Regions from separate parts of the Homo sapiens genome. Here all the other regions are reported to be linked to region 1. The links are microRNA targets in miRTarBase. Many come from high-throughput screens and were not tested one by one. Region 1 holds a microRNA gene; each other region holds the end of a gene's coding sequence.

What was found. Region 1 holds the annotated microRNA hsa-miR-105-5p (UCAAAUGCUCAGACUCCUGUGGU, at 2,658-2,680, opposite strand). A microRNA usually pairs through its seed, bases 2 to 8, with sites in the 3' UTR of a target mRNA and lowers its output. Matches are read on the target gene's strand: a 7mer-m8 pairs with bases 2 to 8, a 7mer-A1 pairs with bases 2 to 7 and ends in A, and an 8mer does both.
Region 2: the mRNA of EXOC2 is a reported target of hsa-miR-105-5p. Seed matches in the 3' UTR shown: 7mer-A1 at 3,070-3,076.
Region 3: the mRNA of PHIP is a reported target of hsa-miR-105-5p. Seed matches in the 3' UTR shown: 7mer-A1 at 1,162-1,168 and 7mer-A1 at 1,301-1,307.
Region 4: miRTarBase lists UBE2D2 as a target of hsa-miR-105-5p. Seed matches in the 3' UTR shown: 7mer-A1 at 3,727-3,733 and 7mer-A1 at 3,022-3,028.
Region 5: miRTarBase lists PPP1R3B as a target of hsa-miR-105-5p. Seed matches in the 3' UTR shown: 7mer-A1 at 1,890-1,896.
Region 6: miRTarBase lists DCC as a target of hsa-miR-105-5p. Seed matches in the 3' UTR shown: 7mer-m8 at 2,070-2,076 and 7mer-m8 at 3,594-3,600.
Region 7: miRTarBase lists PLXNC1 as a target of hsa-miR-105-5p. Seed matches in the 3' UTR shown: 7mer-m8 at 1,151-1,157.

What each region holds. Positions count from the first base shown.
Region 1 is chrX:152,389,608-152,393,704 of GRCh38, forward strand. It overlaps MIR105-1 (microRNA 105-1), which reads right to left and starts at 2,692; the gene lies at 2,612-2,692. The region is part of intron 1 of GABRA3 (gamma-aminobutyric acid type A receptor subunit alpha3); the gene reads right to left. It overlaps MIR767 (microRNA 767), which reads right to left and starts at 3,922; the gene lies at 3,814-3,922.
Region 2 is chr6:483,428-487,427 of GRCh38, forward strand. It overlaps EXOC2 (exocyst complex component 2), which reads right to left. Exons shown (of 28, transcript NM_018303.6): 28 at 1,727-3,337. The coding sequence ends at 3,244. Among named protein-coding and RNA genes, the nearest start is that of IRF4, 94 kb to the left of the region's middle.
Region 3 is chr6:78,937,235-78,941,331 of GRCh38, reverse strand. It overlaps PHIP (PHIP subunit of CUL4-Ring ligase complex), which reads left to right. Exons shown (of 40, transcript NM_017934.7): 40 at 2-4,097. The coding sequence ends at 639. It also overlaps a transcript of IRAK1BP1 not described here. Among named protein-coding and RNA genes, the nearest start is that of IRAK1BP1, 72 kb to the right of the region's middle.
Region 4 is chr5:139,626,510-139,630,606 of GRCh38, reverse strand. UBE2D2 (ubiquitin conjugating enzyme E2 D2) reads right to left here. Exons shown (of 7, transcript NM_003339.3): 7 at 2,173-3,851. The coding sequence ends at 3,806. Among named protein-coding and RNA genes, the nearest start is that of CXXC5, 20 kb to the left of the region's middle.
Region 5 is chr8:9,137,388-9,141,387 of GRCh38, reverse strand. PPP1R3B (protein phosphatase 1 regulatory subunit 3B) reads left to right here. Exons shown (of 2, transcript NM_024607.4): 2 at 1-4,000. The coding sequence ends at 594. Among named protein-coding and RNA genes, the nearest start is that of PPP1R3B-AS1, 2.0 kb to the left of the region's middle. RefSeq lists an enhancer at 400-899.
Region 6 is chr18:53,529,960-53,534,056 of GRCh38, forward strand. It overlaps DCC (DCC netrin 1 receptor), which reads left to right. Exons shown (of 29, transcript NM_005215.4): 29 at 605-4,097. The coding sequence ends at 694. The region is part of intron 2 of LOC124904304; the gene reads right to left. Among named protein-coding and RNA genes, the nearest start is that of LINC01919, 36 kb to the right of the region's middle.
Region 7 is chr12:94,304,671-94,308,767 of GRCh38, forward strand. It overlaps PLXNC1 (plexin C1), which reads left to right. Exons shown (of 31, transcript NM_005761.3): 31 at 511-3,005. The coding sequence ends at 615. It overlaps CEP83 (centrosomal protein 83), which reads right to left. Exons shown (of 17, transcript NM_016122.3): 17 at 3,028-4,097. Among named protein-coding and RNA genes, the nearest start is that of PLXNC1-AS1, 130 kb to the left of the region's middle. RefSeq lists an enhancer at 1-543 and a silencer at 1,158-1,257.

The DNA of each region.
Region 1 (4,097 bases):
TTGATATATGAAGGAATGTAGCAGATGGCAATGATGCAAAAGGAGATCATGAATACCATATGATCACAATGTACCCTAAGACAACTGCAAAATGAGCTCTTGACTATGTTATGAGAAGATGATATAGAAGGAGACAACACTGATGGAGGGGAAGAATACCTCAGTGCCGGACCTAAAAACCATCATGCATCAGCTAATACATAGTCCAATACACAGAAGATGGCATTTTCGGTGCAGGATCAAACTATAATGGCTCATGCTTAGAAAATTGTGATTTTTTATATATGGTACATGGAAGGGAAGCATGGTAAATGATAAAAAAAAATATAGGAGCAGAGAGACATCGTTTAGAGCTTGTTCACATGGATAAGATTTGAGATTAAAAAAATACAACACAGGAACAAAGATTTGGGGGCAAAGTAAATGGCAATAGTAAAAAGTAAAACAACACAGTATATATTTAAATAGCAATGTGGTATGAACAAACATTCCTGGTGTTTGAACTTCTAATATACAATCAGTTTTCAACTTCTTTGCCTTTGGTTTGAATGTCCTCCCATAGCTCAGAGTAATTTGATCGTCTGAAGCCTTCTTCTCTCAGCTCGTCAAAGTCATCAATCAGATAACTATAAAGTGTATGCTGAGAGTAAGGACACAGAGCTAAAGGATGTGATACAGAAACTGACAGCAATGACAGGAAACCATAAAAAGGGAATTCAAATGAAATAAATTTGATATATAAACTTATTTCAATAACATGAATGATGGCTATCTCATTACAACAGTAGACACAATTATGCCTTATGCAGAAAACCATGGTATGTGAGCACATTAGATAACTATGGTGATGCACATACAAGTATGTTTGAGGAAAAATTAGAAATGGTAGGTCAAGAAAGCCATAGACTGGTACTTACCGAGAGGGGCATGGTACAATATTTTCAAAATAAGATGGCATGAAATAGTCCAGGAGCAGATGGCAATGGCCCTATAGATGACATCAAGGCAAATGGTTGTACAACATTTGTGCATTGTAAAGCCACCACCAGTGCTTAACCATTAGACTATAACACACACCAAGATAATCCCAGAACATAGGCTGCCAACCATGATAGAGAATGAAGAAAAAATTCTAGTATAATAACGATGATAACGATGATGAGGATATTATTAAAAATTATAATTATTTAGAACTTATTACATACCAAGCACTAAGCACTTTAAAAAAACAAGCATATGAGGTAGATGTTATTATTTTAGGGAAAAACAAAAAAAAGTGATTTGTATATAATGCAGTCTACCCTTATTATATATCAGTGGTGCTATGCTACCTCTAATGGATATGGTAAATTAAAAAACACATGCTTAACAGAGGAATTAATGGCTATATTGCTGATAGAGACAATAATTCCTGTTGCATAAATAAATATATAGTCCATTGCCAGACATTCTTGGTGTATGAGCAGTCACAATAGTCAGAACATTTGACCACAGGCACACTCAGATAATCCTGCAATATGAACTGACATTCAGGATGGCAGAAGCACAGGCAAACACGATACTGTCAAAATTAACAAACTGTTATTCATGATACAGATGATTCCATCCTTTTATCAGTTCAGGAGTAGACAATGACAACTGCATTTTTACACAACCATAGTGTATGAGCGAAAGTCTATAGTACAACCCCATACACAATATATGAGCAGAAATTCCTTACGCGTGCTCAGTCTACCATGGAGAATGAGCCAATACTTACACATAAAAGAAAACAGACATGACACAAAGAAAATAGCCACATAGTTGAAATTGTACAGATGATCACAATATATAATCGAAAAGCCACAATACGGGAAAGAATTCCTTGGTTTAGGAGGAGATGGCAATGGTAGGAGACACCATGACATGCGCTCCAATGATCACATGGAAGAAAAACTACCACTGGTGTTTGAGAATTTAACCACAATACACACCAATATACACTGAAAGGTGAGCTATCAATTATGATACAGGTACAGGTGGAAATAGAATAGTAGTCAACTACTGTGCTATTCTTTCTCAGAAAGACACGATGAATAATGAAATACAACACAGCAATGAATGACTTTGCCAAAGGAGTAAAGGGTATATGTGCAAAAGGAAAAACCAAGGTATAACATCAGACGACCATGCTGAATGGACAGCCACCACCAGTAATTTAGCATGTGACTAAGGTACACAACCAGACATTCTCAGAATGCAAGCTAAAAGTCATGATAAAGAATAAAGAGACATAATACAAATAATATAACAATATCAGCAAATACTTATCATTTATATGTGTCAGGCACTAATCTAAGCATTCTACATGTGCATCTTTGAATCCTCACAACTCTATGAGGTATTATTATTTATTTTACAGTTTAGAAAACAGAAACAGAAGGGTGAAATGACTTCCTCAAGAATTTCAAACTATTAAATAGGAGAACTGGGATTTAAGTCCAAGCAGTGAGCATTGTGCACATACACTGATGGTGCCATGCTTCCTCATATGGATGTGATACAAGATTAGAAACACAGAGCACAGGAACAAATGGCTTTGGTCCAGAAGCAGACGGCAATGTAGCAAAAGTAGACACCGTAGCACATGCTCAAACATCCGTGGTGCATGAGCAGCCACCACAGGAGTCTGAGCATTTGACCACGATGCACACTCAGGTTCTGCAACAGAAGCTGACATCCAATATATAGGAGTAGATACTGAGGACGAAGAAGGAGGCAAACACACTGTATGACAAAAAATCATGGTGCACAAAATTATATTCATGGTACAGAAAATTCCATTTTTAGTACAATGTAGACAACGATGGTGCATTTTCACAAATCATGATGAATGAGCAGAAGACCATAGCTAAAGGGCATAAGCACATTCATACAACCATGGAAAATTAGCCAGGGCTCACTTAGAGCCAAGAGACATCTTATGAGAAAATAATCATAAGTGGAGACCTCATAGATGGATATAGTACAAGATCAAAACATCTCAATACATGAATGATTATTTCAAATGTAGGTGGCAAAGGTGCATAGAGGACCCACCGTGTAACATGTTCAGACAAAAGTTGATGAAAGCCATTAGTGATATTTGACTGTTTGATCTTGACTTACACAGGTACACAAAAGTAGTTTACACTATTACGTAGCATTTATGCCAAAGGAGCTAAGAGGCATAGATAGATACAGCACACAAACTTGTTTTCGGAGAATAAAACCATGCTGTGGTGCTTACTTAGACAGATATTGTGCCTTATACAAGAGCCACGGTACAGGGGTAAACAGCTTTGTCCATGAGTAGATGTCAGATATGTCAAAAGAGACCTGACACCATATACTCAGATGACCATTGCATGAACAGCCACCACTAGTATTTGGGCATTTGACTATGATGGCTACCTACACAATCCCACGACATAAAGTAAAAGAATGATACAGGAGCAGGTAGACATGAAACCATGATTACCAAAACGGATATGGTTGGTGATTAAAAATCATTATTTTCTTTAGTCTGGGAGAAGATGGCAATGATTAAACGGGTGAAGTTATGATATATGCTGAAACAGCCATGTTGCATGAACAGCCATCACATCATAGGCATTTAAGCATTTGACTGATGTACAATTAGAAAGCCCAGTGACATGAGATAACATCTGTCTTTTTGGAACAGATAAACAATGTGCAGAAAAAGGCAGAAGTGATCTAAGAGTAGAGAGTCATAGAATATGAGTAAATACTAAACTCATATACACGATGCATAAAACACTATTTCCCTGTAAAGCAGTAGACAATGAAGGTTCCTGCTCAGAAACCATGGGGTATGAGCAGACAAGCATGCTGCATGCTCAGACAACCATGGTGCATGAGCAAAAACCTACAATATAAAAGCAGGTGGGTGTGATACAAGAGTGAATAACACAATGAGGAATATGCCCAGATGGACAGGACATATGAATAAAGGAAACATAACACATGAATACAACTTATTTAGGCAAACAGCATATGACAATGATGCTGGAGGAGATATCATGGCACATACTCAGGCAATCATGGTGCATGAGCAA
Region 2 (4,000 bases), not on the chromosome of region 1:
AAACACTGTTGAAGGCACAAGACAAGCTTCACTGCCCACTTTGTCTAGGATTTTCTGTGCCTAGACAGGAGAAAGACACTCTGATATCCTACTGCCTTTCATTAGCCAAACTGCAAACAAGTTACCCAAAGACCCAGGTCTTGTCCGTAAGATGTTTATTGCTATATATTTCTAACCTGGCCAGGTACAGAAAGGCTTTCCAGTAATACACGTAATAAACCTCAATGTAATAAATCCTCCTCTGGGGGAGCAGAAATGAGATGAGATCAGCACACAAAAAGCATAATGGCCCTAGTATAGAGTAATATGCAACTGTGTTTAAAGCAAAGCTAAAATAATTATGGCTGCTGCTCTAATTGAGGAGTGATATATTAAATATATCTTTCAGAGCAGTTCACAGATCTATATGAAAATCTTTGCAACAGAACCAACAGATAAATGTTCAGTGACAAAAATGTATGCAAGTTTAGTCTATGCATAATTATTTTATGAATATTACATAAAATATATTTGACTTTTAGAAACCTAATCTTGATTTAAAAACTAGTTAAAATTTGTAACTTTTCTGAAAACATTACACAACACGCTTATGAAACTAACAGAATATCCCATAGCACGTGATCAAAACAGAAATACACACCACCACCTTGTACCAAATCCAGAATAAAAATATAATCTCTTCTATTTCTTCCCTTTAAAAAAATCTACATGCAAAGATGACAAGAGACAGGAGAATGAGTCAGTGTGCTCAGCCTAAGGCAATGATGCTTGTTTTGCAATGCCCAAATCATTTCTAGAATATGCTCTTTCATGGTACACTGATAAAGAAAGTCTTAGTAAAAAACCAAGTGATTTCTAATAGCTCTTTCCCATTCAAGTGAGGCCAGCTCAGCTAACTCACATGAAGCCATGCTGTGACCCACAAAGAACATGGGTGTGCTGGAAATGAAATGCCACTGGAGCACTGAAGTACCTTGAACCTCCCTAATTTGTTTTCTCAGCTGCCTCGTTAACTTGCTCCAGGTCCTGGTTTCTCTCTCGGCTTTCATCTAACTTATTTCATATTCATCTCCTCTTACCCACTAAACCAGGGTTCTGTAACTCAAGTAGCTCTTGAAATCCCCCTTTCTTCCAAGAAGTCCCCCCTGACTTGTTGGAATAGTAGTCCTTGAACTCCCTCACTTGGGTATGGGGTTTTTAGGCCTTTACCTTCCACTCTGAGCCATAAAAGCACTACCGGTTTCCGTGTTGCTACTGTTTATTAGCCTCTGGAATTGATGAACTTTCTCTGAGCTGTGACCCAGGTGGATGGATGTCAGAAAGCATATTCCGCTGGAAGGAAGAGCTGAGCAGTAGTGAAGTCAAGGACATACAGAGCCAGAGTGTGAACATGAGTCCTGCTACTTACTGCCTTGCAGTCTTACGGAAGTCACCAACCTCTCTCTAAGCCCTGATTCCTTCCTCTGCTAAATGGACGTGGCGGTAAGCTAGCCCACATGTATCATAAGGCTGTTGTGAGGATTCAACGAGGCACTTCATGGTGTGCCTCGCACATGGTAAGTCCCCAGCAAACAGAATTAGCAGGACCTGACAGATGGTTTCTGACAATGTGTTTACCAATACAGGGTTAACCAGAATGTAAGTATTTTGGGTGTTAACAGTAGAAATATGAAAATGTTGAAATAAAGACACTTAGGGAAAAATGTCAAGTAAATTACAACTTACATTAAAGGCAGATTCTTTATTGGCTGAATGTGCTGTAGTAGATATTTAAAATATCACAAACATTCATGATTGCAGTTTTTAAACTTAGCTCACAGTTGAGTTAGATACAACAGTTAACATACTTAGGAAAGACAATTCTTAACAGCTTTATCAAGCACATTTGTGAAAGATTAAACTTTCATTTCCAGTTACCATGATGTCCCCCCATACACCAAATGAACCAACACATTTATTTATTTTAAATAATGGAAACTGTACATGGCTACACTGTGCTCTAAAATTACTTGCATTAATGAGGACATTAATTTTAGCATTTAAAAAAAGAGATTTAAAAATAACCATAGAAAAACTTGAAAACCCTGACAAGCCGACTACAAAGAGAATTCCTCTCTGAAAATTTTCAGATGCGACGGTATGAGGGAGTTGGGTGGGCCGCTGACTCTGAGAGAAGTCCCGGTGACCTGAACCTATTCCAGTGAAGCCAGTCAGCAGTGAATGTGGGGCAAGTGCATGCGGCTGGTCTACAGCTCCCATTGCCTGGTGACCAAGGAGCATCCTGAAGTTTCAGAGAAGAGACTGTGTGACAGCAGCATTGTTCCAGCTACTGAGCAAGATCCTTCAGCAGGTAAGAAGTGGCAGAGACAGTCACCTGCTGAAGGAGCGGGCAGGGAGTTGGCCGTCCACGCGGAGCCTGGCCTTTCCGTTAGGGGACCCTGAAGTCTGCGACCGCCCCGCCAACACCTCAGAGTGTAACACAGTGCCCGTTACACATTCACACTCCATCACAGATAACACACAGGGCCTCAGGGACTGCAACACGTGCATGTGTAGTGACGCACGACAAATTAAGAGTGAGTGAGAATGAAAGCTCATGCTTAGCCCTGTGAAAAATAAAAATCAGATAGCAAAACGCAAAGTTAAATCACAGACACCTGGACCACAAATAATCTACCCCAGTTGTAATATGTATTTTAATGGAGACCATAAATTTTTCCAAAAACCCGCTTGAATTAGAAAACTTAAGGCCATTTATATGAAATGAGGGTTTTAAGCACAGCTGTACAGTTTAGGACAGTAAGAGCTCCAAAGATGTCTACATAGCTTTCCAAATCTCGTATCAGTCAGTCTCTCCGTGTGTCGTGGGAGCTGCCTGCGCTTCCGTGAACGGGACACTGAGAAATGCTTCAATATGTGCCACGCCATTCCAGAAAACTCCCTGCAGAAGCAGCTCTTCCTGCAGCACTCAACCTTCTGCTGAGATGCAAAATATATTTTAAAATGTATTTTAAAGTCATACAGGATCTGATCTAGTAAGAATGGCAAAACAAATACTTCCTGGGCATTTCAAATGAGGTCATTTTGGTTGAAATGTATACCAACAATTTTCGAAGTCAGAGGAAGAAAAAAGAGAAAAATGGCAAACCCAATGTTTAATACACCAAATACCTTTAGGGTACTTAGAGAGTGAACAGTCTTATTACGTGTTATTTTCCTGGACTTCTTTTATGTGGCAGATATTTATGTTTTCATCATGGTTGAAGAAGCTGCTTGGAAACAGGTGAGCTGCAAGTGCATGCTACTCTTGAACTTGTTCAGGAGCTCTTCCAGTAACCTGCAGGACGGAGACACTTGTTTTACAGCCCGACAGATGGGGCGGCCTAGCAACGCAAGAAAACACCAGGGGAGCCAGTGCCCGGCTCTGCCTGGGCTTGCTGTGTGGAGAAGGCAGCTGAAAAGTTCTACCTATGGATCCTTAACTCAGCAAAAGAAACACATCAAAGAAGTTGATCAAATAGGATATACTGATAACGTATTTATGTTTGTACAGAAACATCTCCTTCCTATCCCCTCCCAAGATTAGATTCCTCCCTAATACAGACTGATGTTTGGGCCTATTCTTTTTTAGAAATTCAACTCTAAAATAATTTACACACCTTCAAATTCACTTTTTGTTAGATGGTTCTATGAACGCTGGCAAAGCCATACCGGAGTGTAACAGGCTACAGCACGTGGCATGGCTGCACCCTTTCCCCTGCTGCCCCTCTAGTCAGCCTCTTCCCTAACCCCATCTCCCAGCAGCCACTGCTGACTTTCCCTTCCTCTCATTTTGTATTAACAGGTATTAGAGAGTGGGGAGCGAAAGCAGTGAGTTAACCACCAGGGCAAGCAGGGTTAGGGGCTAATTCCACTAGGCAAATCGCTTTGCTGCCTGATATCGCAATCTGTTTCCCCAACTGATGTGATACAGTCATCTAATTTTTTTTCTTTTTTTCAG
Region 3 (4,097 bases), not on the chromosome of region 1:
GGAGATTGTAAGAACAACGCTCTTGTACCAGGAACCATTCAAGTAAATGGCCATGGAGGACAGCCATCAAAACTTGTGAAGAGGGGACCTGGAAGGAAACCTAAAGTAGAAGTTAATACCAATAGTGGTGAAATTATACACAAGAAAAGGGGTAGAAAGCCCAAAAAGCTACAGTATGCAAAGCCAGAAGATTTAGAGCAAAATAATGTGCATCCCATCAGAGATGAAGTACTTCCTTCTTCAACATGCAATTTTCTTTCTGAAACTAATAATGTAAAGGAAGATTTGTTACAGAAAAAGAATCGTGGAGGTAGGAAGCCCAAAAGGAAGATGAAGACACAAAAATTAGATGCAGATCTCCTAGTCCCTGCAAGTGTCAAAGTGTTAAGGAGAAGTAACCGAAAAAAGATAGATGATCCTATAGATGAGGAAGAAGAGTTTGAAGAACTCAAAGGCTCTGAACCCCACATGAGAACTAGAAATCAAGGTCGAAGGACAGCTTTCTATAATGAGGATGACTCTGAAGAGGAGCAAAGGCAGCTGTTGTTCGAAGACACCTCTTTAACTTTTGGAACTTCTAGTAGAGGACGAGTCCGAAAGTTGACTGAAAAAGCAAAAGCTAATTTAATTGGTTGGTAACTTGTACCAAAATATTTTACTTCAAAATCTATAAAGCAGGTACAGTTAAGGAATAAGTAGAACTAAGGCTTCTGCTTCCTTGCTGCTGTGGTGGAGTAGGGAATGTTATGATTTGATTTGCAAAAAAAAAAAAAAAAAAAAAAACAAACTTACGAGACACTTCACTTCTTTAAATGAATATATATATATATATATAAATATATACATATATATTTTAAATGTTTGCTATTTATTGCCCTTAGATAGGTTATGCATTTTCACATTCATTTCATTCACTGTTTGAAACGAAAGAAATTGATCTATAATGAATTCCTGATTTATTTATAGAAAAGACAATTCTGCTACACTCTTTAGGAGCATAATATTCCTAGTGATAGAGCATTTCATGTTAAAATGAATTATTTTTGACCAAGTGAGGTACATTTCTATTGATACAAGTCATGCCCCTAAAAGATAGATGTTATACAGAGTAGCAGTGAATTAAGAAATGTTTCCTCTAAAAGATAAATATAAAATTTCCACCATTTGATACCCTAAACAGTTTAATTTTAATTATAGAATGTTCATCTACAAAGTATCTAGAGGAGGCTTTTGCTTTATTCCATTTCTGCCAAACAAGAGAAAATGTACTGATGAAGGGAAACATATCCACATTGGAAAACATTTGACTGTCTAATTTTTCAGACCTTGATTCTTATATCACTCAATCTCTGTTTATTGTGCCAAAGACTGAGAATCAGTGCAGTGGAAAGCCTGTTTTTGACGTCAGGACAGCATACACTTTTCAATATTGGAAAGGCTATATATTCTAAAGAGCAAGTTATTAAAGAGTTATGCTGAGATATATCTTTTTTTGGTACTAATAGAAAATAATGCACTGGTGGGTCCTTTGACAGAGATGTTCTAGAGGAAATGTTTAAGTGGTTAAAGGATTCAAGGAAAATACAGGAAAAAAGGTATGGGATTTGATGTTTACTTGTTGATCTGGATTAATGTCATTTCTAAACTTTAGACATATCTAATAGCCTAAAATGACTTACAAAGAAACGTGTCTGTGTGTGTATGTGTATATATTGATAAATGGGTATAATTAAATATATATACAAACACATACTTATATACTATTACCCAGGTATAAATTCTTTTTTCAGGATTTTTTAGATAGCAGTAGAATAAAAATAATTTTAAAATGTCATACTTTATAGTTTAATTTTAAGGGGGAAATTGGTTATTTTCAATTATTAAAGGTTAAAATAGGCCAAATCACTTTTTATGCAATCATGTTTTATACAGTGGTCTCATTGCACATTGTGTTTTTTCTGCACTTTTTACGGTATCCTTATCATGCTGGTATGTCAATATACACCCTAAAGAAAAACTCCATTTAATGATTGTGCCTTGTATTCTATTATTTTTTGCATCATTAGTAAAATTAAGTTGTCTATTGTAAATGATAACTATATGACTTAGGAGAATGTATTGCTATATGTACTGCTATGGAAAAGGAAAGCAGTTATTTATTTGTTTATGGTACAGTTAGTTATTTTATACCTTAAAAACCAACATACTTACCATTTCTATTGTTTAAAAATTACTGTCCATTTTTTTAAAAATTTAAAGAATGTAGTATTTTCTGAGGACTGGTATGGTACAAAAATGTAATCAAAATTTTCAGATACTACATTTTTAAAAAGTGAGGATGGGGAAAATATGTATCAGCATGACCCTGATGTAGAAAAATAAAGTCTGCAATTGAACCTTGGCAAAATACATTACATAATTATTTCTGATAAGGATAAATATTAGCTGTCATTTAACTGTCGTGAAGAATGAAAAAGTGATACATTTGGGCTTTTTAGATCATTTGTAACTAAATTTGTACAGAAATTCTCCTGTGAAATTAAGTAAACCATTTTCCAGATCTTGACTGCATTGCTGAGATTTTGCAGTTGAAAAATAATTTCAAATTTTTCAGGTTTTTTGTATATTTATTTTTTTCTAACAAATATATTTAACTATAAAATTAAAATTCAGTAGTTAAACTCTTCATAATGCAGAAATGGATGGCTTGATTGTATAGAAAAATGAGTCTTTCAGTTACACCATTCTTGAAAATAATAGTGTATGTTTGAAATTTGTCATTAATTAGTTGCTTTTGAAGGCAATCTATTTGAAATATGTAATTTCCTGATGTTATCTGCATTGTGTTAAGAAAAAAATAATAGGCTATAAAATCAATTTTTGTAAAAAAAATGTACAGTTTTAAGTTGTGTACAGAAAAAGGAAGAGCGTACACAGTCTTAGAGTGGAATATACCTCTAGTACAGTGTATGTGTTAATTCCAACTCAAGCAAAGAAATGAGTATTTACCATCTTTCCTATAACATGTAAATGTATTATTCCTGTTCTACAGACACTGTATATTTATGACCTTATTTGGACATTATTAGACACTGGTTTCTTAGTAAAGCACAGTAACTTGGATCAGATTCTTTGTAACCGAAACACTTAAACATGTATTAGTAATACCAATATATTTAGATTTTATATTTTTATAATTTAGCTTCTATGCATTACAGAAGTTGAATTAAGAAATTTAAGTCATCACCATATTTTTGTTTTCTTTACCACTTGGGAAAATAATCCTCTTTGAGGCAGTAACACTATGTATGTACTGTTAATAGGCCAGAAAGAAATATTGGCAGTTGTCTTAGGTAAGCAATAAAAACATCTCCAATTTACTGAAAGTTCAGAAATATAACTCTTACATGCATGGAAAGTGTAAACCAATTTAGGTATTTCTAAGTACCCAACCCTAGTATTCTCTCCCTCAACTCCAACATTCTCAAGTCCCAGATGAAAAGTTTCAGTGGAGCATTAGTTTAAATATTTAGTCTAATCAGAGACTCACAGCCCTGGGCAATAGATACATAGCTTTTTAAAATTTTATCCTTTGTGACCTGCTATAGTGGCATTGGACTATTTTCTGCATGTATTATAAACTAAAGATTGGCCTTATTTCAATTGTTTTTATTGCACAACTTCACTACAAATTTAAAGACTGCTGGCATTATTATAAAACTGTCTTCCTCCAATCCAAGTAAATAAGTATGTGGAATATTTGTGAGCTGGATTAGGTAACATCTGAGACTTGGGATTGACTAAATTTAGTTATCACTTGGAAATGAATTACATAAGATACAGTAATCAGAGAAAATATCTTTATGCAGCATGTATGTTAACATCTAGAACTGTCCCTCATCTGCAGTGCAGTAGAGGAATCAGACATTTTAAGAAATGTATTCAAATATTTTTATCTTATATGTTAGCAGCATTTACATGTTTTCAGATATGATTTGTAATATAAATTAATTTCTCCAGTTAACAATGTTTACTTCAATTCTGACATTCCATTTTATACATATATACCTACTGTATATCTCTCTCAAATGTCAGCT
Region 4 (4,097 bases), not on the chromosome of region 1:
GCACCACTACACTCCAACCTGGGCGACAGTGAGACTCTGTCTCCAAACAACAACAACAAAAAACAAACCTGCTTTCTCCTGCCTAACATCACTCACCAAAATAACCCATCACTTGAAATAGTGTTTCATAAAGGGAAAATGAGGAAATCAAAAGGAGATGGATTCCTAACACTAGTTACAGTTTTCTGTAGGAGTAATAAAAATGCTTACTCCTGATTTGGAAGGAAGGAAAGATGTGTTTATAATCCTGAAGACCTGGGAATGAGAAGAGAGTTTTTTTTGTTTTTTTTTTAAGACTGAGTTTTGCTCTTGTCGCCCAGGCTGGAGTGCAATGGCGCGATCTCGGCTCACCACAACCTCCGCCTCCCGGATTCAAGCGATTCTCCTGCCTCAGCCTCCTGAGTAGCTGGGATTACAGACATGTGCCACCATGCCCGGCTAATTTTGTGTTTTTAGTAGACACGAGGTTCCTCCATGTTGGTCAGGCTGGTCTTGAACTCCTGACCTCAGGTGATCCGCCCACCTTGGCATCCCAAAATGCTGGGATTACAGGCATGAGCCACAGGGCCCAGCTGAGAGTTCTCCTCTTCAAAACTTACCCTGGGTAGTTAAGGGGTGCCATACAGCACACAGAGACAAAGCCAGAGTTTCACCTTAATTACAGACAAGGGACAGTTTATAGGCATTCCAGCCATAATTTAGAAATAATCCATTTCTCCTGACAAGCTACCCAGGTCTCAAAATAACTTGTTGAAACAAAGAGGAATGATTCAGAAAGCAGAGTATTTTAGCAGTTGGAAGTGGAAAAAGAAGGCCTCTATTGCTAGGTTAGTGTAGAGAAAGGGTCTCTCTCTGACAACTACCTTTTCCTTCTCTTCACAGACCTTCCTAACTTCTCTCTCCCCACCCCTACCGCCCTCCTTCCAAGTCTCTGTACTACTCAAAGTGCATAAACTCGCAGGACAATGATACCTTTGACTACTGATTCGCCAATAGCAAAGCATATAAGTATCTGAAGTGACTTCATTTTACCAAAAGACACTGCCCCAGCTTTAACTTGACAAAGTACTTTGGGCTATTAAGAAGCAAACAAAAGGAAACCATACACTTGACGTTCTCCTGTAACTTTTCCAAGATAATCAAGGTTGCTACAGACTGGATTTTACATACGACAAAGTCATAGAAACTTCTGTGAAGAGCAATGTGGTCCAGATGAAAACAACCCTGAGGGATTTTTTGTTGTTGTTGTTGTTTTTGGTGAGTGGGAAAGGTGGCTTCTCTCACTGGGCTTTCTTTCTGGCCAGGCACATATACACAGACTGGACCAAAGAAGCTTCATACTCAAATGGGCAAGACCAAACCCCATTCAAGGGCCTAATGTTGTTTGTGACCATCCAAACCCCTTCAATTGGCACCTGCACACCTGGAGGATGGCTTTCATTTGGCACTTAAAAATACTTAAGAACACTCTTGTGAAAATATCCATATTATGATCTAATAAATGGTAATAAGCTGGCTGCTCTCTAAGATGACAGGCAAATACAGAATGAGCTTTCAGGATCTGTGCAACTGACCCACGGTCAACAGTATGTAGTTAATAGCAAGCCAATAATTGATGGAAGGCTGGGTATGGTGGCTGTCTCTAGTCCCAGCACTTTGGGAGGCTGAGACAAGAGGATCACTTGAGCCTAGGAGTTCAGGACCAGCTTGGGCAACATAGTGAGACTCCTGTCTCTAAAAAAAATTTAAAAATTAGCCAGGTGTGGTGGCATGTACCATAAGTCCCAGCAACTTGGGAGGTTGAGGTAGGGGGATTGTTCGAGCCTAGAAGGTTGAGGCTGCAGTGAGCTGTGCTGTCATGACTCCGACTGCACTCCAGCTTAGGCAAGAGAATGAGACCCTGTCCCTCTCTTAAAAAAAAAAAAAAAAAAAAAAAAAGATGAAGTCCCACTTGCCCATAATACTGAGAATACAGGGTGATTTTAGGCTTAAGCTAAATTCTAACTCCTTTCCCCACAACTGTTAACAGTTAAGCCTTTTCTGCAAAGTCAAGGATGCTAATAAGAGATGCTTGAAATGCTTATAAGAGAACTGTAAGAGGTTTTGGGTTTTATCACACAAGTTCCAAGGTGGAGGAGCAGTGACAGTGAGAGATAAGACAAGGTGAACAAGTTTAAAACCAAAAGCAGTGGACATTTATTCCTTAACTTTTGTGCAAGAGTGTAAAGATGCATTTGAAAGAACCTGATGGCTAGAGCATCAGCCATGGCTTTCAGGTTGGCCTAGTTTACAATTAGGAAAAGAAGGGGGGAAAAAAGGTAACTTGCCTAGTTCACATGAATGATGTTTCTGGCAAACACAGTTGTTTACAAGTTTCAAGCTATATTTTACTAGGGTCAAGGGAAGACTTCAAAAAGCCACATACAGTACAATTTAAAATTGTGTGAACATCCTGCAAATGTTAGTGCAAAGTAATTATGTAGACTCTCCAAACAAGACTGTGCTCTTGTTTCCCAGGTTTGGTCAATGTTGCTCTTTTATAATTACAATCACAGAAGCTTAACTTACCAAATAGCAATGCCTCTGTGTTTTATGTCCTATGTACCAAGGGAATGTCACAAGGTTTTGATGAAATGCAGCTTAGTTTCATTAATAAAGCAAATTTCTTATTGAATTTAACAATCAAGTTCCTGGAATGCTGCATGTGTTGTTTCATGGAAATGCTCTTAAGCTTATGCCTCTAACTTGTTCAATAAAATTACTCGTAAGATATCCTTTTTACAATGTAACTGGAATTGTTTCATGATCTTAAAATGCAACCAGTATAAATGAACATTTCAGAAGTGGGAGAAAATCCACCACTAATCTCAGCTAGACAAACTTCTTAAAAATGAAAAAGCCTATTCACACAAAATTATATGTAATGACTGTAGTAACCAGTTTATTACACAGATTAATCATTCTTGAAAGTACAAGCTCCAGAGGAGCAATTGGGTCTTTAAATATACACAAGTATTTCCATCAAATGAATTTTCACCCTTACATCCAAATAGACCTAAGCGGTTAAAAACATAAGAAAAATAAGAGCTATTAGCTATGTATTAACTGAGAAACCACATACAAACCAAAGAATATGGAAGAGAGAAAGAAGGGCTGAAAGGCCAAAGGTTGAAGGGGTAGGGAGATGTAAAAGAGTTGGGAACAAAGCCCATCACACTTGATGTACTAATAGCTCCAATCCATTTAAATGTTGACCAGTTAAACTTAGACCTTAAAATGCAGGATGTGGGTAGAGTTTAATCTGGTTGGTCATAACTTTCACCTAAGACGTAGCTCCTTCGGAATAAAATGAATACAGACACAGCTTCATGTTCTTCACCTTGCTTTTCATAACTGTTTTGAGTTTAAATGGATTCCACTTAAAAATAATCTCCTATAGGTGAGTGGAGCCTTTTCTTTCCCATCCAAGCACACACCATACCCACCACCCCCCTCACACCTTGCTGTTATCCAAATTTAAGTCAATAAGAAAAGCTTTTAGTCTCACACCTAGGTAATGCCTGTAGAACTGGCTTGTCACACACACACTTCTCTGCTAGGAGGCAATGTTGGTACAGAAGTACAGTATTTCTAGTTTGTTGTTCCAAGTATGTACAACACGCAGCACTGCTGTATCAGGTAAACATGTGCACAGGGGAAGATGAGGCGTGGGCTCATAGAAAGCAGTCAAATGGAAATCAAAAGGACTTTCTCTTTCAGAGTTCCCCTATCTTTATTTGTAGAGGTTATCCAATAATTTCTTTAATTACATCGCATACTTCTGAGTCCATTCCCGAGCTATTCTGTTGTACCTGTACACACAAAGAGAAGCTTGGCTTAACATAGGTGTGGAGTCAGTAAGCAACAGATTCCATTCATTATCCCATCAAGTAACTTGAAGAGAGTAGCTTATAGGACATTCAAGGAAAGGCCCCTTTCTATCCCAAATTTCTGATAAGGATTAATTCAATGATAATGGGAAGGAGCTGTAAAATGTGAAAGTCTCCTTTAATTGCTACTTATAGAGGGTTCTGATTAAATTTTAGTATTTGTTGGCA
Region 5 (4,000 bases), not on the chromosome of region 1:
CCATTCAACATCACCGAGCTCCTAGACAACATTGTGAGCTTGACGACAGCAGAGAGCGAGAGCTTTGTTCTGGATTTTTCCCAGCCCTCTGCAGATTACTTAGACTTTAGAAATCGACTTCAGGCCGACCACGTCTGCCTTGAGAACTGTGTGCTCAAGGACAAGGCCATTGCAGGCACTGTGAAGGTTCAGAACCTCGCATTTGAGAAGACCGTGAAAATAAGGATGACGTTCGACACCTGGAAGAGCTACACAGACTTTCCTTGTCAGTACGTGAAGGACACTTATGCCGGTTCAGACAGGGACACGTTCTCCTTCGACATCAGCTTGCCCGAGAAGATTCAGTCTTATGAAAGAATGGAGTTTGCTGTGTACTACGAGTGCAATGGACAGACGTACTGGGACAGCAACAGAGGCAAGAACTATAGGATCATCCGGGCTGAGTTAAAATCTACCCAGGGAATGACCAAGCCCCACAGTGGACCGGATTTGGGAATATCCTTTGACCAGTTCGGAAGCCCTCGGTGTTCCTATGGTCTGTTTCCAGAGTGGCCAAGTTACTTAGGATATGAAAAGCTAGGGCCCTACTACTAGTGACTGCAGGTGACAGGGCGTGGCGGAGCTGCCACAGACAAGCCTAGCTCTGCTCACTGTGCAGTGGAGATGGAAGGCCAGGGAGGAGCAACGTGGAACTTCCATGAGGCCCCGTTTGGGAAAATAAAAGGATCCTCTTCACTTCTTTCTTAAACAGCAAATCCAGCCAGGTTCAGATTACACAACCAGTGTCTCACTCAAAGGAGCAGTGGTGGCTGGCGCGCTTTCGCACTGTGGCAGCCACGAGAGTCTGTGCACGTCTGTGCTGGAAAGGGTATGGATGGGAATCAAGCCTATGCCAGTGCTGATGAAGCTGGAGGAGTCTCTCCTCTGCTCTCCACTCAGATGTGGGACATCAGTCGCCAAAAGCCACTCAGCCCCAGCCACCTCGCGTGAGACCCTCACTGTTCATTGTGTTCATCTTTGGGTGCTCTCTGCCAGCCAGGCCTTTCCTGCAAGCTGCTGTGCTTCCCCGTCCACGTGTATCTCTGCTGTGACACACTGAGCTGACGCACATTTCCAGTGCAGCTGCAGAAGAGAAATGGGATTGGCTCTTGTTTTCTGCAAGTTCATGTTTTGCATTTTATGTTCTTCCACAATTGATCTGATGTTCAGGAAAAGATAATAAAGGCAAATTAGTTAGTGGTTGAGACAGGCATTTCCTCCTCCCGCTTCTTGACCCCACAGATGTATTCCAGCAGAGAGCAACACACCAGTCATCAAAACCCACTGGCTCCTGTGCGGTGTCACAGATTGCAGGGTTCTGACAAGGCAGGACAGTCAAGAGTGGGGACACTTTCAGCTTCTACTTTTGCCTTCTAGGGGGAGCTTTCTAAGTCCCCACATTTACCCCGAGTCACCGGAAAAATCTGATTTTTCCCCCGAAAGCTCAATGACTTTAACGTGCTTGGCTGGTTTGTCTCATTCTTTATGAAAGAATTTTGGGGCCGGGCGCGGTGGCTTATGCCTGTAATCCCAGCACTTTGGGAGGCCGAGGCAGGTGGATCACGAGGTCAGGAGATCGAGACCATCCTGGCTAACACGGTGAAACCCTGTCTCTACTAAAAATACAAAAAAATTAGCCAGGCGTGGTGGCGGGCGCCTGTAGTCCCAGCTACTTGGGAGGCTGAGGCAGGAGAATGGCGGGAACCTGGGAGGCGGAGCTTACAGTGAACCGAGATCACACCACTGCATTCCCGCCTGGGCAGCAGAGCGAGACTCCGTCTCAAACAGAAAAAAAAAGAGAATTTTGAATCTCCTTTCCCAAAGAGTCATCTTTTCTGCTGTGTTTAGGACATTTGATTTGCATATCCAATATCTCCTCGAAACCTTCAGAAAATGGTTTTATCGTGACTGTGATTCACACTATCTAGAACACTTTACCAGCACCCAGGGACATGGACTTGGGTGTTCTTATTTATGGTGTGTATGTAAAGAGATAGGGGAGAAAAACCTCACCCAAGTTCTTATACGTTATTTTAAACGTTTGCCAACTCTGAAATTTCAGAGATTCATTGTTCTTAACCATATTGGACTAAAGTCTGTTGGTTAGTGCTGTTGTAAAAGAGACCTCTGGGGCCGAGTGTGGTGGCTTATGCCTGTAATCCCTGCACTTTGGGAAGCCAAGGCGGGCAGCTCACCTGAGGTCAGGCGTTCAAGACCAGCCTGGCCAACATGGTGAAACCTCGTCTGTACTAAAAATACAAAATTTAGCTGAGTGTGGTGGCAGGCGCCTGTAATCCAGCTACTCGGGAGGCTGAGGCAGGAGAATCACTTGAACCCAGGAGGTGGAGGTTGCAGTGAGCCGAGATCACGTCACTGCATTTCAGCCTGAGCGACAGAGTGAAACTGTCTCAAAAAAGAGAGACTTCCGGGACAGTCATTATCAGATAGGCCCCAAACCTGTGATTTTTCTTGGGCAAGATTGGTGTTTACTTAGGGGTGCTTTAAAAATATATTTTTACAAGTATACTTGTAGGAAGTTGGTTTTTTATTTTCTATTTTTGTTTGTTTTTGGAGTTTGGTTAAACGACTCTTTTATTTTCTGTTTTGCCTTATCTTACTAAAGTGAAGTTTTCCTAAGGCAAGCAAGAAGAGGAGTGGAAGCACAGTTGCCTGGATTTGGAGGCAGAGTTGTCAGGCTTTTCAAGCTAAGAGTCTTGTGCTTGGATTTTCCAGATTAATTTGAAAAGACCTCCCATTTGTGGCTTTGTACATAACCAACAGGCAGATACTGAGTGCCTTGGCTCCTAGAGTTTTGTGGTTGGGTTAGGTTGTTTTTGTTGTTGTTTTGTTTTGGTTTTGTTTTCATTTCTGAAGTTTAAGATGCCTTGACTTTTTAAATGCTCTTAAGGCTATTCGATGTAATTCTTACTCCTAAAACTGGCTGTTCTTAGCCTGAAATCTAATGCTTTGTTTTTTGTACCTCTCCCAGGTGGGTAACACTCTAGGATGACATGATGTTATAATTTTAGGGGAAATCACATTTTTACCTTATGCTGTTACTGGGCAGAACCACGTTTTATGTAAACATACCAGACATCGGGTAACAGACAGTACTTTAAATGTTATAAATTTGGTGATCAGAACTATTAATAGCATAAATCGAACTCAAATGGAAGCAAAACTGATTTCATGCAGGTCCTGAATTTTACTTTGCCTTAAGAAGTGCCCTCCCCACAATGCAGGAGAGGCACAGAGTGCACTGTCATTGACATGTTACCCGACTAAGGATCACTCTGTTCATAAGAAAAAGGCCTGAAGTGACTCTGTTTAATAAAGTCAGTTTAATTTTATCTAATAATGATCTTAAGACATTCCCATGTCAAAATTTGAAATATGGTAATTCAGTGATAACTATCTCTTCTAAAGCAGCCGTAAACCCTCCCCACTACCCGTCTTTCTCCCAGCTCACCCTGGCTTTTTTTGCTGGGGGTGCTGGATGCAAGCCCCCAGCCAGCACACCTGGGATGCTCACCCTGCCGCACAGTTCAGAAGGCAAGTCCTCACCTGCTCGCAAAGACCCTTCTTCTCCAATAAAAGACTCTACTTGCCTGAGTTTCCTCATCAGGGCTGTCATTCAGTGATGTATGGGGGTCTGAAGAATACTGCCTTCTATCTGTCTTCTGTTTACCACTTGCTCCTCTGCTACCCTCCTGCCGCAAACAGTCTTCTTCCTTTTGGCCCAGTTCTGTCCCGTGAAATTCTCAGAAGGCCTCGGGAGCTGCGCTGATGTATTCTCTCCTTGTTTGATAGCTCATCATCAGTAGATAAGCCTACACACTTCAGAGGGTGACAGGTTTCTTACTTGGAGACTTCACTGCACCTTGACTTGTAGATTTGCCTTCAGACAGCTCTTGGTTATGGTTACAAGTGGCCCCCGAGTCCCAGAATCTTTCCCAGGTTG
Region 6 (4,097 bases), not on the chromosome of region 1:
TTTGTTTCCACACACAAACTAAAGTCATAATCTCCAGACGTTTCATTGGCCAAGGCAAAGCCCGCTGAGTTCTCACATACAAAAAAAAATGTATCTATGTCATGATACAGAGAAAAAATATTCTGTTCATATCTTGGTTAACCTAGTAAGAGGAACAGGAGCTAATGTATTGAATATCTACCATATGCCAGACCCTATCATGGGTACTAAACATGTTACAGGAGGCTCAGAATAGCCTATGAAATAGATGTCATTATCATTTTATAGATGAAGAAAATTACGTATCAGAGAGGTGCACTCACTTGTCTAAGACCACACAGCTAATAATTGGGAGAACTTGATTTGAAACCCAATCTTTTTGACTCTGAAACATCTTCCTTGTCACAGGTGGAGATGGAGTGGGTGAAACAATATGCAATCTCTTATTATCCCCTTTTATTACCAGCATCTTCATTCAGTGAGTATATTCCAAGGACAGCCCTGGCTGTGGTCTCCTAGGTCAGACTTGGGAATACGTAGCACCCCAACTAGCTGTGGCCCCGGCCTTCATAAAAGAAATGGATCAATATTTGTTACTAACTCTTGGCTCTCATTCTCTTTATAGGTGTATGAACAGGATGATCTGAGTGAACAAATGGCAAGTTTGGAAGGACTCATGAAGCAGCTTAATGCCATCACAGGCTCAGCCTTTTAACATGTATTTCTGAATGGATGAGGTGAATTTTCCGGGAACTTTGCAGCATACCAATTACCCATAAACAGCACACCTGTGTCCAAGAACTCTAACCAGTGTACAGGTCACCCATCAGGACCACTCAGTTAAGGAAGATCCTGAAGCAGTTCAGAAGGAATAAGCATTCCTTCTTTCACAGGCATCAGGAATTGTCAAATGATGATTATGAGTTCCCTAAACAAAAGCAAAGATGCATTTTCACTGCAATGTCAAAGTTTAAGCTGCTAGAATAGTCATGGGCCTTTGTCACTGCAGTGACCACACTGTCATAACTAATACCTATGTTTTCCTTTGTCAAGGCCTGTTGTTTAATGTGTAGGTCTAGTCTTACAAAATGCAAGTGCATTATTTAAGCCTGTACCATGCCATGGCAAACCAGTGCAAGCTCACTATTTTGTTTTCAACTTAAACATACAAAGCACCCATGGGAATCTCTCATGCCATAGCACCAAAGGATTGGATGTTTTCCTTACAGCACAAAAAGTAAATAGTAAACAAACAAAAGGCAGAGAATGCTTATGTTTGTAACTCAGTCATTCATCTTGCACAAGTGGTGGATATTAGTGAGTGGCTAAAAATTCACCTATTTTGGCAAGTATTTGTAAATCCACCCTTGGTTAATATGTATGTCTGGAGTCCAGGAATATAAAAATCTGCAACTAGTGGCATTCTGCCAGCAGCAGTACATTTCTGGAAAGAGGATATAATATGCAATCTTCTCAGACACATGGTAATTATATGCTTAAGCTTGTAATAGGACAGTTTTCAATTTGGGTGGCTTTTGTGCCATACCACACTGTGATACAATTTCAAAGCTTCACTAAGGCCATCTTCCTTAGGAGTTTGGCCAGAAGAATGCCCCCACCCCTTCACCCCATCCCTCCCTGAGTTCTCCTTGGCAACTAGCGTTGGGTGAAATGGCCAGCTCCACATGTCATATGGTGCACTGGCCAATGTCGCCTGTCTTCTAATCCCGTAGAAATGGCAGACTCCCTGAGAGCAGGAAGAGAAGGAAAATAAAAGGTAGCTTCTAACAGTACCTTCTCTTAAAGAATGCCAACTCTGCCTACAGGGTCAGTGTTGGCAAGCATTGGCCACCAGACCCTTTTGTTAAGGGAAACTTTTACACTACACCTGTGTCAGAGTCAGGGGGAAGCAGAGGGGCAGGTGCCACCTGACACTTCCGACATGTAAATCCAGCAGATACTTTTCAAAGCAGCATCTTAAACTGTGGACTACAGTTTTAAACTTCTATTGCCATGTTTATCTACAGCTTGGAACTAGCTAAAATTAAGAACATTTTGTATGCAGCATTTTAGTTTCTGAATTTTCAGCTGCATTTGGAGTTAATCCCTGTTTATGCAGCTGAATCGCCAAAAGGGAGCTAGTTTGCATATTTATCAGTTAGGTGACTTGAAAACCCAATGAGAGAGTTTCAGCTGAATTATTCCTTTCAGCTCTGCCTTTGATTTCAAGCTTGAGTAGGTCATAATTTTAAAAGAGCATGGAAGGGATAGGATCTTTACAACCTAATAGCTCCTTTTATTAGGTGGGTAATTATATATGAATCCCTGAATAAAATATTTTGAGCAAAATGGCACTGTAACAGAAGTAATAATTCAGTTTATTTTTTTACAGTTTTATGTCGGGAAGGAAATCTGATGTCAAAGAGAGGGCTGTTCAAATGGTTCATTAGAAAGTCCGGTCCATTTGCGAATTTGTTCCTTCAACAAGAGTGCTCATTCAAGTTACTCAGATTTTCTGGAAGTCTTTTCTGAAGAGCTATGTGATGTTGTTCTATGGGACAGACTACTCTTATTTAACATCTGGGCACTTAGGTAGACAACCTTCTACTGACCTGGAATAAAGTGTTTCCTAACATAATATTGAATTATTCAGAAATAATCCATTACTTCAAAAAAGAAAATATTCATTGGGCTAGCCCAACCTTCTCTAGGCCCTAAGAATTATTACCTCCCCTTTCTAATTCTAGCAAACATGGAACATTCTCCTTAGGCACTTGACACCCACGAGGGTAATCCTGAGTGCTCAGTTTGGAATAGGTTGCAAATCTCAGATTTTAGGGATTGAGTCACACCTTCAATCTATAGAATGAAGTTGACCAATTAAAAAAAAAAAAAAAACCTATCATTTTCACAAATTTCTAGATCCTTCTAGTCAAAAATAATTATTTAGGAAATAAAATTTTTAAAAATCCATTTAAATACATGTTATTTGTCTTCAGTGGAAGTTATATTTCTGCTGCATGCTTTTGAAACTTTCTTCATTAAATAGAATGGTTTGTCTTAGTAACTGGCAATGCCAGTATTAGCACCATGCATTTAATCTATAATACAATCAATTTAAACATCCTCAAAAAACTCTAGTATCATTTACCTGGTAGTATTAATATACAATGATGTCACCACAACTTTTGTATAACTCTGTTCCCTTTACCCTCAAATGATTCATATATGTATATAATTGCCTGCCCAAGTTTTCAGGTAACTTATTAATTTCCCAGTCTCCTGATCTCTTGACAAGAAGAAACCTGTGAATACTGCAAACTAGCCTCTGACTTCCTCCTACTGAGTCTAGTTCATGGTATCCAGGACTCTTTATGCTCATAACTCTCTCTGATTCCCATTGGGTGATACCTGACAGCCAACCAGCCGCTCTGCCACCAGAACTCATTTCTCCCTGAAAAAGAAGAAAATCATATTTGGCAGAGCATTCTCTGGTCTGCCCTGTAATGTGCTTAAATGTCAGGCAACATCCTCTTTTTTTTAAAAAAAATGGTATTTTTCTTTAAATTTCACCCTAATAAGAAAGCTATTTTCTCTCCTCTGCAGAAATTTCTGCATTTGTGAAACTTATAAAAATTTAGATAGTTCAAATGTATAAAGAATATTTGGATGATGCTCTAGCCAAAAGTTAAATATTTCGTAGTGAATCATAGCCAATAAGAAACCAGTCATACTTGCCTCTTTGAATAACAGAGATATAAGCTTCTAGAATATTTAAATAATGAAGTTTTACATTTGGGTATTATAAAATGCATACTCAATTGAATGAGCTGAAAAAAATACCAAGCCAGTGATATAAGTGGAGATTTATTAAGGATTCCTGTTGAGTATATTCTTAGTTTCCTCAAAATAGGGATTATTCAAAATTAGGTGTATGTTCAATCTCCTGCTTTGGTTCCAGCTACACAAGGAGAGCCATCCTGTGCTAGTGTGATGTTTCAGACAACATTCTGAAACTAAAATGTTTGGCACTTATTGGCTTTTCCAATAAAGAATCTCTTAAGTACAGGTATTTCTGGAAGCTGTTGGTGTCTGTGCTTGAAGATGATTGCTGATAC
Region 7 (4,097 bases), not on the chromosome of region 1:
ATGAAGTGAAGCTCTAAGGTAGGGTAGAGGCAATGAGTTCTTAAACATGATAAGCATCCCTCGTTCCAGGGGTCAGGGGAGAGAAGGGAAGCACGAGGAGGGACTACACTGCCCAGATGGGAGGGAAGGGAAGGATCTGTCTCTGACCAGGATGTCCCTGCCTGCTGCATTTAAGGAGAAATACTTGCCTGCATGTTGGCTGCCCAGGAATGCTTGCTGTGCTTGGAATGGCTGTGACATAATGCATAAAGCAGGGCCTAGGAAGCCTGGCCCCATATTTGTAAGCAAATAGTTGGTATTTCTTGCGAGCTTCTATTTTAAGCCAAGGTATTGTTGATCCTGTGATAAGGACTTAGCAAAACAACTTGCAAAGTGAGTATGTAAATGATGGAAGAAAATGTTGGCATCTGTTTCATACAGATTTTACCACTCACAGCATCAGGTATGCAAAAAACAGAATTGTAACGCTAAAACCACAATATCTAAAATAACTGTTCTAATTGTCAACAGATTCTAAATAAACTAGAAAGAGAACGAGGGCTGGAAGAAGCTCAGAAACAACTCTTGCATGTAAAAGTCTTATTTGATGAAAAGAAGAAATGCAAGTGGATGTAAGCACTCTGGGGCCTGGCTTAATCTGGCAAAGTTCTTCAGACGACTTGGGAGCAAAATGGCTGCTTGAGCTACTCTGTGTCGTTAATTTGTTGTTTGCACATAGGTTCCACTTTGGGCACTGTCTTTTTAAGAGACCAAGGCACATGCACAGCTTTTAGAAAGCATACCAACCCTTGTGCCTGTGTGTATACCGTGGGAACCCTTCTGTAAATAGAGTTGAAGTGGTTGTTGCAAACAGCCTCCTTGTTTACAGAGAATACAAGGCCAGTAAGCGAATGTCAGTATTGTAACTACAGTCTCCACTTAAGCACAATGATATAAGTGGTTTTGTTTGAAAACTACAGCTATGTAGCACTTGTGCTACACTGCACCTCTGCATTGTAAAGGGATACTGCCAGTGCTCAAAACAAAATGTGAAATGAGTCATTTGGAAACAAGGTGGGGGTGTTAGGGCAACCTCGAGGATTTGCAGCATTGAAACTTTCCCCAGTAGTTCTTGGAAAAGCTGACCGCAGAATTTGGTAGTGTACACTTAGCATTTGTGAGTGTGTGTGTGTGTTTAAACCAAAAACTAACAGTGTTGCAACATTGTTGAAAGGGCTCGTGTTTTTCAGTGGTCATCAACTGCACTCCATCAAACTCACCTCCATTTCACCAAGGAGCTCTAAAGTAAGGAGAGTGGGCTTTATTTAAATGAACAGCATTTTAACCAGATACTTTGTCCTAATGTATGTTCCTTTTCTTCATCTGTTTTTTCATACTAAATGTATTTGATAGTGGACATGTTGGATATTATACAAAAAAATCATTAATTCATTTCTGTTCCAAAACCTTTGATCAGAACGATCTGTGGAAGAGTAACTCCATTTCTATATGAGTGAGTGTCTCCTTGCTTTAGATTTCTGGTGAACCCTGTGGTTATGAATACTTGTGTGTGATTTAAAAAAAAAAAGATACATTTTACATTTTATCGAATTGCTGTTCACACTGGAGTATTATATATAAATATATATATTTGAGGCCCAAGGCCTGAAAAATATTAGTATACAACTTGGTATCTTAGTCTTACTATGTACTTTTTGAAAGTATTCCTCGCAGGAGAAAGAATTTAAAATACCCATTTTATTCATGCCTTTCTTTTTAAAGAATTCTCTATCCAGTTATACTGTAGTCTTTTTAGTGCTGATTTTTTAATTCCTGAATTTTTGCTGCTCATGACCAGTTTTAATACCACTGTGTTTTCCTTCTATTAAACCAGAAGAAGTAAACAGCATAATTGGCAACTCTTGAGCTTTTCTTGTGGCAGGCACCTTTTACCCTTGGTGCTCCAAATCCCCCATCTAGGAAAGAAAATTTTTTCAAGTCAAATAACATTGATCACATATTCCTTGAAATCATTTACCAACACTGTATGGAGCATTAGGATTTAAATATGAATTTGTCTTAAAGGCAATTCCTTTTTGCTTCTGTATTATCTGGAAAAGCATGAGAGAGGTGACACCTCAACAAACTGATCAGAGAAAATAAGCAGTTACTACCCTGATAGGCACCTTCCCAATCCTGTTGCTTTTGACCATTGTCTGTCCAACGGACACACCTCAAACAAACAAAACTACCAAATAGATGACAGATCAGAATAAAGGTGAGAGGTCTGGTCCCCATTGAAGGCTGCTACAGTCTTCAAAGAGGTGAAGGAGTTCATAAGAGAACAACAGTAGGAAAGTTGAGAGCCAAGGGTAGGAGAGTTGCCCAAAAGACTTCCCCTACTACTTTAGGGTACTGAAAACTCAAAGGATCAGCTACAGCTTTATCTAAGTATTTACTAAATGCTACATGAGGGTGTCCCTGTCCAGCTTTCTGGCACATGAGTCCTGTGTGGAGAGTTACCTCCTCTTCCAGGGACTGTGCTGTTGGGAACTTTGGGCAAGTCACTTACCTCTTTGTGCCTCAATTTCTGTATAATATTTCTAAGCTACCTCACTGAGGTGGTATGAAGATTCACTAATGTATGTAGCGTGTTTGTCAATCCTCCAGTGAAAAGCACTATCTAGATCACATTTTGGATCACATTAGCCAAATGCAGTAAATGGCCAAATTAGATGTGTGCTGAAGACAATCAGTCACTGGGTCTATATTAAACAGCAACCAGAGCAACAAATGGCAAACAATTTCTATTTTCAAGTTTCTTTGCATATTTTTTTGGTGCAAAACCATTTATAAACTTTTTTTTCTAACACTAGTGTCTACAGCAGCATTCAAAAAAATTCTGTTACCTTTTCTGTATTAGGATTTAAAGTCTATTTCTTATTGTATACCTGATTGAAGCTGTTCTTGGAGATGAATGTTTTAAATGTCTATATCCAAAAAATAAACATTTTGATGTAACTGTGGACTGTCTTTTTTTTTTTTCAATTTTCTAGTTATAATAGTTTTTTTATTCTAAGTGGCTCCGTGGAAATTATTTTTCAGAGATAAGGTGTCACTGTATATGCTGTGAATAAGCAGCTATATTATGTAGTAAGTAAACCTAGTTTGCTAAATGGTGCTAAGGACTGCTCAATTACAGTCCTGGCCTTCTTCACTATCAACTGGGACTTTTGACTATGAACACCTTGGGATAATGAACATTCCACTTAATTTGGGAGACTTGAGCTTTAGCCTCGTTAACATGAAATTATTCCAGCAGAATTCCTCTAAAAGATGTCACATTAAAAAGGCTTCCAATGGGTGTAGACCAAAAAAAATGAGAGCATACTTAGGGACACAAAACACATAATTATTTGGTTAGATCCACAGTAATGGGAAGTAAAGTTAAATACCAACAATGTTTATAAAAGGACCTGAGTTCAAGTTTTATAATCAATGGCCCCCTTGTTAATACAGCCATAGGATTTAATTATTTGCACTTATTCTCTATTCTAACAAAGCCAAAATCAGTAGACTGTCATATTGCTAAATATATGCTATATGGTTGATGTAAAATTAAACACACGATTAAAAAAAAATTAAGCTCTTTAATTATGTGCACACAGATTTTAGAAAAGGTAGCCTTTTGTATATAGATACCTTTACATTCTTTAGGCTGACTTTTAAATTGTCATCTTTTTTCAACTACAGTTTTTGTATATAGTAAACCAGAAGATGTGTATGGACCCTGTTATGGCCAAGCATCTCAAAGATGAAGAGAGAATTAATGATAGTTATATTTCACTCAAAATGCCAAAAAAAAAAATTCAACAAAGTAAAAATTTTAAAACTTGACTCTAACTAGTTCCTTTTTGTTTTACATTCTCAAACCATTGTCAAATATTCTAAATATCTCTGAGAATTTCTCTTTTAATGCTTCACTTGTATAATCTTAAAATCCTGACAGTCATACAATACAGCATGTAGTAGGTACCTTTTCTTGAGGCACATTCAAGTGTTTTGGCAAACAGTAAAAAGTATCTAAATGCCACAGGTTAAAATGTCAAGTTTTACTG